2 separate regions of the Homo sapiens genome follow, and region 1 is linked to region 2. The links come from fine-mapping of genetic effects on gene expression. Tissue or cell type: whole blood. Region 2 holds a variant in brackets; the other region holds the start of a gene. All regions are shown on one strand. Distances are from middle to middle.

Region 1 (4,000 bases), 130 kb before region 2:
AAAGCAGGGACTAGGTTTTACTCATTGTTGAACACCCAGTGTCTTGTTCACTGTCTGGCACAGAAAAGAGGACCGATCAAATACTATTGAAAAAATAATTGATAGGAAGGGGCAAGGTGCTCAGATTCTAAAGGGAACACCATGTCATCCCCACACACTTTTGAGAGGACTGGGCATGGTGGAGACACAGAACAGGCTCTAGCCAATTCCATTCCAGATTTCTTGCTCTGACCACAGAGCCATTCGTCCACTGCAAACCTGACCATATCATTCCCCTCATCTCATTGCTGAGCAGTGTTTTTCAAACTTTTACAGGAAACATCCTCTCTAATGGCTGGCAGATGAGAGCAATCACACCCCCAGAGGGCAGACACATAAGGAGCCACACTCTAAGAGTATCACTGACTGTGCTTCACCCTCAGTATCTTAGCAAGCTTGATATTTATTCTACAATGTGTCTGCGTTTGTTGTAACGCAAAAAAAATCATGCTTATAACTTCTTATAATTCCAACTCCAGGTGGAAGACTTTACTCCTACCATGACTTCTAACATCACCTGGCCTATATCTATCTGTATTCTTTCTGGGTACCCCATACTGCAGCTTCATATACACAACAGGCCTATGGATCTGATCCAAGCTACTTAGCACAGTACATAAATCCCTTCCGGACCCAGCCCCTGACTCACCACTTCCCCTCCCACCTCTCCAGCCAACACAATCATTGGCAGTCACTGTCTCAGTCACAGTTCAAGCTGTTGTTCACCTCTAGAACTTTGATAATTAGGGCCTTGTCGACTTCGAGAAGACATACCCATCCTTCCAAACCCTTATGGGGTGCGATTTTATTGAAGTCTTTTCTTAACCCTCCCTCCCCATAGTAGGAGGATACTTAGTTATAATTCCCTAGTTTCTTGTACCGCTTGCTTTGTTTACCTAGTATCTCCCTTACTAGACTGTGCGGTCCCTGGAGGCAGGATCTTGTTTTAGTTTTCTTACTATTCCCACTGCCAAAGCAGAACCTTGCCAGTCAGGTAAATCTCCCGTTTATGGGACACTGGGTTCACAATAGGTAACAGGGTCTCTCAAGAGCAGAAGGCAAGAGAACTGACTATGAAATTGAAATGAAACACGAATTGAGGGGTCTGAACACATCTCCAGTTTCAATTTTCTTTCGTGATAGAATGCCAGATTCCAGGTCCCAGGGAGGTCCTGGCGCCCAAAAAGTTACCAGGGATGGGGGATCAGGGTTGGCACAGAAGTCACTCACCACCTGGTAGAGGGCGAGTGTTTGTTCTCCAGCGTTTTGGTCCAGGGCTTGTACCAGCTGATCTGCTCGGCAGCTTTGCCCCAGAACCTCTCGGGGTCGGTCACCGAGGCTGCGAAGTGGGTCTTGTACTCGCTGCCACTGCCGGAGGACAGTGCCCTGCATCCCCGGCCCCCGAGACCGCCCCGCGGGCCCGGGACCACTAAAGCCCTGAGGGCCGCACCGGCTCCCCGGGCCGGAGAGGACCCAGGCAAGGGCCCTCCGAGCCCCCCGGCGCTGGTGACTTTACGACACTGCAGCCAAGACGGTTTCATCTCCTCCGGCCACCCGCGGTCCCCGAGTGTGCGACAAATGGTACTCTTGCAACTTCCTGGGGCCTGAGGGAAGGGAGTAGGGGGCGGGGGCAAATTCCGAAGTGAGCCCAGAGCCCAGAAGTTTGGAAGCCACACTAGAGTCGCCGGGAAAAACCGACCTGGAGCGACCAGAGAAGCAACAGGCTAAAGTGGGGGCCCCGGGACAGGGGTGTCACAGCGCCGTTGCAGCAGGTTAGTTGCGCTGCTGCACGAGATCCAAACCCCAACATGCACTTCCAACCCCGCAGCCTTCCGGGAAAAATCGCGCTCAAACTCCAGAACGTCCTTCCGATTTCAACACACAAGTACTCCTAGGAGGAGGCCAACGGCCCATCTCTCAATTTTCAATCCAGCAGTTTGTACACGGCTGGTTTAATCTTTGGAAGGTCGTTGGTGGAGGTGGCATCGCCTCTGACCTGCAGGAAACCAGCAACTCGGTGCGTTGAGGCAAGGCTCTTTGATTGTTATTTATTGATTGATTGATTTTTCAAAATCAGCTCAGTCCCTGGTTACTAAAAACACAAGCAGCTCCAGGGCAAGGACTGCTCCGGGATTTCCTGACCACTGAGAGGGTAGGAGGAGTGGAAGGAGGTTGTGCCAGACAAATTGGGAAGTGCTTCTTGGGGTGATTGACAGGTCACAGGGAAGGTGACCCCACTGGGATGCGGATTCACCTGCTGACCAGACTCCGCATGTGATCTAGACAGAGAACAGATAGGACTTGTTGCATTGCCTCCCTTCTAATTTGCCTGCTTGGAGTTTCTGTGGCTTTTCTAATGAGAAAACAAAACAAACAAATAAACAAAAAACAAAAATAGGAAGTAAGTAAAGATGAATCAAAAGAGGAAACTGGGAAAATGTAAAAAGAAAGGTGGTATATAGTACTGTCTAGGTTTAACATTCGTCAAGCTCCGCTATTATTCATGCTTTAGCGAGATTCAGATGCAATCTTTTGCCTTAATATTATGCCAAACACATTCTGTCTTGGTGTGACAGTATTTGCAGTTTTAAATGTAAAGATACGTATTTCCAAATCTGAGGTGAGAAATAGTGGCATGCCCCTGACCTTGGGAAGGATCATAACTTGAGAATCCGTAAACAAATGATTCTGCAGGAAAAGAATAATGTGGAGATAAAGGCTAAACAGAACAGAGGTAAGTGCAATGCAAAACAGAGAATATTTCTTTAAATAACCACCTCCCTTTCCACTGAGAGGCAAGGCACTAGACTTTTCCCTGACATCTGCAGTCTACTTTAGTCCTTCCAAAGGTCTCAAATCAAATAATGTCGAATGGCCAAAGACACAGTCACCATTTAAATCCAGAGAAAGTTACAAAGCCATTTAACCTCTTCATCCTTCCAGAACGACAGATTTATTATTGGCACCTAGCATGTGTTCACATTATACTGGGCACTTTAAACAAATGTTAGCTCCTGTAATTCTCATGAAAGTACCAAGAAGTGGGAATCATAATCCCATGTTTACAAATGGAGCTAGTATAGAGATAGATCGACTTGCCCAAGGCCACGCAGCTAGCAAGTGAAACAGTCAGGATTCAAACTTTATGGATGCCCAGTATTTCAAAGCCCAGATGCTTTGAATTACAGATATGCCGTGATACAATTTACTGACACCTCAAGGTGGAGGGCTAGGGGAAAACCCACTCTAATCCTGTCACTCACTCCAGGATACTGTGCAAATACGATCATTTTATCTCTGTGCCACAACTTGAACAAGGAGGGGAATCTGACTCCAAAGTCCACCATTTTAATTCCAGGCTGAGTATCTTCTACTTTAAAAAAAAAAAAAAAATCTTAGAATTCCAGTAAAATATGACAAATTGAATAGCCACATTCATTCTTCTCCTTAAAGAAACTCCACTGAAAGAGAATCAAAGAGGGCGGTTGTCGTGGTAAAAATCCTACAAGGATAAAGAGAACAGGAAAAGAAAAGAAACCAAATGAAAGAATAGAAAGAAGATGAATCTGTGGAATATGATTTAAAAGTGGGAGGAGGAGCTTGTGGAGGAGAAAATAGATTTTCCTAAGGAGAATCCATTTTCTCCTTAGGAACCTGGTATGTCTCAAGTTTTGGAGGTGCTGGGTTCCTCTGAAGGTTCAGAAGGAAGTATGAAGTTCAGAGCTTAAAAACAAGGAACTGATTACAAGATCACATGAGGCAAAGTTAGACCCCCGTATCGCCAGATGAAACCACTTTTTCTGGACCCATCAGTATACCATTTTTTCTTTTGAAAGTAATTGTATACAATAGATTGTTACTGTAAGCTCCATTTCAGGCTGAAGGGAGAGCATAAGTGTAGACACAATCCAGCAAATGCAGTGGGTCTGGTTTTGAGAGTGTTCAGTGTACAGGTAGAGCA
Region 2 (8,322 bases):
TAACTACAAATTTGACGATGATTGTAGTTGCAGTATAGAAGATTTTCATGATGGTTCCCATATAACTACAAACTCGACACTGATTGTAGTTGTAATAAAGATAAGGCCAGTAGAGAGCACTATATGCACTAGCTTTTAAAATAGTCTTTGCATTACTAACTACTAATAAAATTTAATGAAAGAATAGTATTTATTGTTTTAAGTTGTACTTAGCTTTTTGATTCAGTTAATAAATCAACATGTCATTTTATTTGAAAATGAAAGTACTTAAACATCTCTGTGTTTTCATTGTGTTCCTATACTATTTCATTTAATGGAAATAAAATGTTCAATAAAACAAATATCTAAAAGTGGCTCTACTGTACAGCATAATGACTACAGTTAGTAATCTATGTATTCTTGACATAAGAGAGTGGATGTAAAGTGTTCTCATCACTATAATAATAATATGATGAGTTAATACATATGTTAATTAGCTAGACATGTCATTCTGTGATGTATATACTTAAAAACATCATGTGGTACATGATAAATACATACTTTTTTTTCCTAGTTGGAGTCTTGGTCTGTCACCACCAGGCTGGAGTGCAGTGGCGCGATCTCGGCTCACTGCAACCTCCGACTCCCCTGTTCAAGCAATTCTCCTGCCTCAGCCTCCTGAGTAGCTGGGATTGCAGGTGTGCACCACCAGGCCCAGCTAATTTTTGTATTTTTAGTAGAGACGGGGTTTCACCATGTTGGCCAGGATGGTCTGTATCTCCTTACCTTGTGATCCGCCCGCCTTGGCCTCCCAAAATGCTGGGATTACAGGCGTGAGTCACTGCAAAAAGCGGTACTTTTAGGCTTTTAATTTTTATCTTCCTTCAGACATATATACCATTTGTTTCTTAGTAGAAAATTATTGTCATGATCTCTTGACTTACTGAATAGTCAGCTGGATAGTGCATGATACCACGTATTTCAAATGGAAAAATTGTCATCAGTCTATGGTGACTAGTTTTTTGCTTTTAATCACTTTAGGTTTTATAAATTCAATTAAATATGACATTTTTATAAATAAGTGGTAACAAATGGCATATGAAAGAATGCATGCAATGAAGCAGGAATAAATCCATCGCAGGTATTATAATCTGGAAGCACAAAATTGAAAATGGCCACATTAGCACTGGATTATTCAAAATGACAAGGTCATAATTGAGTGGAGTTCATGTTTATAAAGATGCTATAAACAAGACTGATTTTCATTCATAGCCCTGTTTGAGATAGCAAAAGCCTAGAAACAACCGGAGAGTACACCTATGACAGGCTATTTTAATGAAATGTTATGAAGTAGTTAAGAAGAATTATATAGATCTATATGTATTGATATGAAAATATCACTAAAATAAAATAAATAAATATGCAAAATATAGTGCACAGTAGAATTCTACTTGGAATTTTAAAAAGATATGTGCACATGTAATATATGTTATATATATTTCATACAATATATGGTATTAAATATACAAAAAAAATCCTTCTTAACATTGATGACTTGTGATTGAGTGGGTTTCTGCAGTACCTTTTGAATTGTTTGACATGTGCATTGTCTTATGTTTAAAATTCCAAAACAAAAACTCTTGTAAAGGAAAGAATATATAAGATATATAAAAGAGTTAATAGTTTGTTTGCTTATCTTACCTTGATAAAGATGGCAGAGATTTGCTTGCTGTCTCTACTTTTTGGGGATTTCTTTGATTTGAGGTCTAAATAAAAATATTCAGGTTGGTTTACCACAATTAATCTATGCAATATTCTGGGTGACAGGAGCCTTGAGATACTAACATAGAGTTAAAACCATCTTCAATTGCCTCGTTTGCTCCCATTCTAGTTAAATCCCTAAAAGACTACAATAAAGTCACAACTGGATTTATTATGTGAGTAAATGCTTAAAGCAATAAGCAAAATTAAGAAAACTTTAGAAGAGGAAACTTCTCAGAGATACTGCATTTCAGGAAGTGGATCTGCCTTGTGTAATGGCATAGACTCAGGAATGGTATAAGGAGATTACAGGGTCAGAAAGGCCCACCTGAGGGGCAAGAGTGTAAGAGTTCCTCCAGGACCAGAAAAGCCAGGAAACCACAGAAGTTGAGAGTAAGGAACTCAGTTTTAGAGGAGCATAATTTGATCCTCCTAATTAGTTTTGAGAAAAGGGCACTCTATGTTTTAGGCTGGGCCCAGAAAGATGATATTTAAATATAAACTAACTAAAATTATAGCATTTTTTGCTCCAAATTAGAGCATTGGAGGATAAAACTAAAGAGAGTTTGGAATTCTCTACTGAATGTGCTGTCCATGCTAATTGTGCATTTAGCTCTTAAACTTGCTAATTACTGACATGTATGTTTCCCAGCACACTTAGAGTAAATTCTGTTACTAGCCCCAATTACTGTTCAGTGTAAGAATGTGAAGAATTTGAAGATGGCCTGTTCATCTGTTTCTTCCTAATATCTTTCATTAATTCCATACTACCAAAATTAGAGATAAATTTTGCTGGTGGAAGGAGTAAGTTAAGCTATATTTAAAGGGATAGAAGTCAGATATTGAGGTGCTCCTCAAGAGAAAGCCATTTTAACCATGTTTTAAATAAAGCCAGCGTCCCAAACAAACAAGTCCTAGCTATCATTAATGTCCTTTCCAAGTATCAGGTGGCAGTGTTGTCCCTTCACCATGGTAAGATTCCCCAGCCACACTGAGACTCTATTATATTCATTTTGCCCCTCCTCTTTCTTTAGTTTTTTATGAAATTCCTTAGATTCCTTTTATTTTATAAAAATAAAAATGAAATAAAACACATACAGGAATGCAAAAAAAAAAAAAAAAAAGAAGAAGAAGAAGAAGAAGTTCCTGGTCTACTTAGCAATCCTCTGATTCAAAGTTGCAAAGAGTAGCTCTCTCTGCTCAAAGGTAAAACATTCTCCTATCTACATGCAAGAAAGTAAATATTTCTAAGTTTCTTCTGGAAGTCAACATAAATTGCTTCCAGAAAGTCATCACAATCCACACTTACCTTTTTTATTTCTGTATCCCTTTAACACATATAAATTTATAGTATTGTTTATTATTGATATATCATTTTGTAATTAATTTTATGCTTTTATTTTCCAATTGTTTTGTAAACTCCATAAAAATATGAATGTCTCCTACTTCTAACTCCATCTCTAGTCCTGTGTCCTAGTCAGTACATACACATCAAGTGCAGTGCAGATTTGTTATTTTAAAAAATGTTCTATTAAGTACAATGTGACTTTTTCCCTGACCACTCTAAAGTAACCTCTTTCCCTGCTGTATATTTCATCACAACATCCTATTTTATTGTCATCATATACTTTGTGGTATGCTGGTAAATGTTTAACAAGTGGCTCTCTAGAGGGAGAAAAAAAAATTGGAATAGAGTATTTACCAATCCCAATGGTTTAAATACTGCCACCATGGTCAATCAAAAGATACCAATGTGATATAACTGAAAGTGATGTTGAGACAAAATGCACATTATTGGGTCTCACATACAGTGTGAATAGGCTTCAACACATCAATGTTCATGATAATCAATATCTAAGATTATCTGATTGAATGGCTAATTTGTATTTTATCTGTCTCTCTTCATCAAAACTAAGTTCCAGGCACAGAATAGTGCCTAGCATATTGCAGGTGCTTAATTTGTTGGACAAAAGCGTAACTTTTTACTCACTGTTAAATATATTTAAAATGTTTAGATGACAATGGTAATAAACATGTTTTTTAAATTGTTAAAGTTTGTGAGTTCTAATAGTTTAGAAATATCATCTCCTGAGCAAATGTGAGAAGAGACTGCTTTACTTTTAAAAATTAGTTTGTTTAATATTTCTTGTATTTCTAGACATTCGCGAGAGATGTAAATATGAATTTGGGATGAATAAAGAAAAACAAAAAACTAAGCTTTGAATTTAAATTTCATTATTGAAAGATCAGTCATAACTTCTAACTGTGAAAACAGAGAAGTGTTATTTCTTTCGGAGAAAATAAAAAATAATAATAATTAGAATTTCCTTTTTTTTTTTTTTTTTGAGATAGTTTTGCTTTTTTTTTGCCCAGGCTGGAGTGCAATGGCGTGATCTCAGATCACCTCAACCTCTGCCTCCTGGGTTCAAGCCATTCTCCTGCCTCAGCCTCCCGAGTAGCTGGGATTACAGGCATGCACCACCATGCCTGGCTAATTTTGTATTTTTAGTAGAGACGGGGTTTCTCCATGTTGGTTAGGCTGGTCTCGAACTCCCGACCTCAGGTGATCCACCCGCCTTGGCCTCCCCAAGTGCTGGGGTTACAGGCATGAGCCACCGCGCCCACTCTTAGAATTTACTTTTAATATTTTAATTTCATC[C/T]GAAATATTTTAACATCTAACTCTGAATTAGTAACTCTTCATTCTGAAGTTAGTAATTTTTAATGCAGATGCTATGATACAAATATTTTTCTTAGCATAGATTGTATTCATACATTTTATTGTATGGTTGGCACAAAGAAATTAATGAAAGGTTCATTGTATTTCTGTTCATTAATTATATTACCTTCCACCACCTAACTCTCAATAGCTCTATTTAGGCTTGTTTTTTTTTTAATTATACTCCAAAATGAACTGCCGATTTTACCCAAATACACACTGTGCCTGCTTCCTCATCCCTGGCTTTTCTCTCCTGCTCCCTATAAGGCCATTCTCCCTATCCCTGTCTTTTGTAATTCTGACATTATTCTAGATCTAGTTTAGTCATCAATTTATTCATTCTTTGCACAATACTTAGTCACTAATTGCTCTCTTTCTTGTTTGTTTATTGACTTTCTCTTCCTTAGAGAATACAAGCCAAGTGAGAACAGGAAATTTTTCTTCTTCACTGCAATACCCCAATGCCTAGTACAGTGCTTGGCATATAGTCAGTATATTAAGTGTTTGTTGAATGAACAGACAAATAAGTAGTTATCAAAAAAAAAAGATAAACTAAATATAGTAAGATATTCTATGATGGTTTTAAAAAATAAACATTTAAATTTCAAAGTATTGGTTGGCACTTCATCTTAATCTAGTGCTGTTTTGACAAAGCTGTATGAATTAAGAAAGATAACATGTTATCTTGAATCAGTCAAAAACAATTTCTAACACCCAGGCTGAAAGAACTCCAGTTTGAAGGTGCTATTTTCTCATATGAAACTGTGCTCATTATACTTCATTTATAATCTAACTAAACACATTTCCTTGGTATGCTAATGCTCTATGCAAACCTTCTCTAGATTTTGTCATATAATTTTTAAAAATTCAATTAAGTGAAACCGACCTTAACATAGCTTTGAATGATTTTGTTAAGAACAGATTTTATATATCAAATAGGCAGTTGTTTAAATATTAACCTATATGTATATATAATGGAACCAGTATCATAGTTCTTTTGTCCTTTGACCTAACTTCCCTTCATCCATTCCTCTCTCTATGTCTCAAGCCAACACACACACAAAATAAAAGAGAGAGAGAAAAGACATGTGTGTGTGTATATATACATATAATATATCATATATATGTATTAAATATATTTCACATGTATTAAATACATTAATATTATATTAAAATATATTTATAATATATATTTATATCTCTTAAAAATATATATCTTAATAGATATATATTTATATATCTCTTAAAAGATTTTATAACCATATATATACTTATCTGGAATTCTGAAATAAAAGGCTGAAATCACTAAATCTTCAACAACATAGAATAAAGTGTGATGAGGCCCAGCGTGGTGGTTCATGCCTGTAATCCCAGCACTTTGGGAGGCTGAGGAGACGGATCACTTGAGGTCAGGAGTTCGAGGCCAGCCTGACCATAATGGTGAAGCCCCGCCTCCATAAAAAACACAAAAATTAGCTAGGCATGGTGGCGGGCGCCTGTAGGCCCAACTATTTGGGAGGCTGAGTCAGGAGAATCGCTTGAACCCCGCGGGCGAAGGTTGCAGTGAGCAGAAATCGCGCCACTGCACTGCAGCCTGTGCGACAGAGTGAGACTCCATCTCAAAAAAAAAAAAAAAAAAAAAAAAAGAACAAAGTGTGATGTTTCTTAGTGGAAAGCACAGGAGATTGTGAAGCCAGGTGCTACTATTCTTAAGCAAGTTGTGTAACCTCTGTGAGCTTCAGTTTACTTATCTTCAAAACGGCATAAAAATACCTACTTCTCTGGGCTGGAAAGAAAGGGAAAGAGAGACCAACTTAGCACCAAGTCTGGCACATATAAGTGCTCAATAAGTATTTATTGAATTAGTTAACTCCATGAAAATATAGTTACCATTAAACTAAATTTCTACATATCATTTAATGAAAGAGTGTAGTGATTTTGTAACCAAATAGCTAAGATAAAAGCATAATTACAAATATTTTAACAATTCTCAGGTAAATACACAGCAAAGCAACTGGCATGTGACTAGATCAAGTATATCCCTGCATGTCTCAAAACGAAATTCACAAATATTATTGGAGAGATAGTATTTATTCATAAAAACAAATTCTAATGGATAATGAATTTTTATTAATTTTCTACACCTGTGTAGACATAAGCTAAAGGGAATGAACTTTCCACTACTAAAAATAATAACAGATGAATTTATGGTGATTTATGCTTCCTTTTAATTTCTCTTTTAATCTTGATTTAAAAACAACAACAACCCTACAGAGTCAACACAGAGAAAGAATGACAGAGCAAATTTCAAATAGGAAGCTCAAGGCAGAAGTCCAGAAATATGCTATGAAATGTTTAGTCCTGAGGATGCATTAGGAAACAAAAAGACAAAGAAAACTCTACCTTCACTGACACCACAATCAGGGATTTGTGTTGGAATGGGTACAATTTATGACTTTTGGGCTGATGAATCAAGCTGCTTAAATACATATTCCCTAATAAAGGATGTTGTAAAATAACTACATTAGAAGTCAAGGGATTTGTATGTTCTTTTATCCTCAGTTACCGAGTGAGGTTTAATAACTTTGTGCAAAAGCTTGTAACACACTCTGGTATCATTGCGCTCATCTCAACTTCTTTCTGTTGCTTAATTCAGGGCATGTGAATAACGGTAAAAAACCAAAGTTGTTTTTGCAACCTCTGGCCACCGAGGGCACTTCCTTTTAATAGTGCTTAGAGTACTGCACAGAAGCTTATGGTTTGCTCACTGTCTCCCAAGCAAGACTGGGCAGAAAGGGGGCCATCTCATTAATCTTTGCATGGTTAGCACCTAGCACAGAGCTTACCACACGGTTCCAGGGGATGTATGCTTGTATAAATAAATTTGTATATTCTTTACTGTTTTCAAAGCACAGTCACATGTATGACTCCATTAGACCCTCATAAAACTCTGTGAGATTGCAAGGTAGAATTAGTTTCCTCATATGACAGATCTCTGTGACATTGAATGATATTATTTCCATTGTATGACAGAGGAGGAAACAGGATCAGTGAGAGATTGTGTGACTTCCGAAGAGTACATGACTAAGACTCAAATGTCAAGATCAGCATTCTTTCTTAAATACTAAATAAAAATAAACATATCGAACTACTATTTTAGGTTTGTTCTTAGGGTCTGTTAAGTCTATATATGGCCAATCATCTTTGGCTTTCCCACATTGGTGAAATGTTGTTTTTTAAAATTCAATTGTAGACTATAAAATGAAAAAGACCTTCAGAAATCCTATCTGTAATCAGAAGAAAATGGCATCAATTATATGCAAATATTTTGCTATAAAACAGTATCTGCCTTTTAGAGTTTATTGTTAGCCCAAACAATTCAGCTCTGTCACAGGAAACAAGATGGAGGCAGCTTTGTCATTTCCAATCCTGCACCCACAGTCACCCCTATTCAGCTTATAGAAGGTTTCTTTATGTTTCTTGATTTCGTAGTCAGGAAATGAATCCCTACTATGACAAGATAGTGAAAGTAGCCTTTTTATTGGGGCGAAGAGGTCACAGCCAGTATTTGAAGGCTCTCGTAATTTAATCCTGATCAACTGACTCTAAAGTCAGGTTTTTAATAACACCATCTCCCACTAGATTACAGGCTACAGGAAGTCGGAGACTAAATTGAACTCCTAAATCAAGGCGTGGCACAAGGCAATGTAACTCTTCTATCTCAATTCCTGGCATATATGTTAATCAATCGATAAGTGGCATCTCTGAACCACTGGTTAGAAATCAACATGAAAAGTGCTAGGTACATATTTTTCAAACGTAGTCATAGACAACCAAAATCAGTTTGGACATTAAGAGCAAAGTTT

What was found. PIP is the estimated chance that this variant, and not a neighbour inherited with it, causes the effect.
Region 1: it holds the start of ACSS3, and the variant in region 2 is fine-mapped to the expression of ACSS3 in whole blood (INTERVAL, PIP above 0.99).

What each region holds. Positions count from the first base shown.
Region 1 is chr12:81,075,701-81,079,700 of GRCh38, reverse strand. ACSS3 (acyl-CoA synthetase short chain family member 3) reads right to left here and starts at 1,622. Exons shown (of 16, transcript NM_024560.4): 1 at 1,270-1,622. The coding sequence starts at 1,580.
Region 2 is chr12:80,938,588-80,946,909 of GRCh38, reverse strand. No RefSeq gene overlaps it. Among named protein-coding and RNA genes, the nearest start is that of LIN7A, 4.8 kb to the right of the region's middle. The variant C/T (reference allele first, on the strand shown) is at 4,400.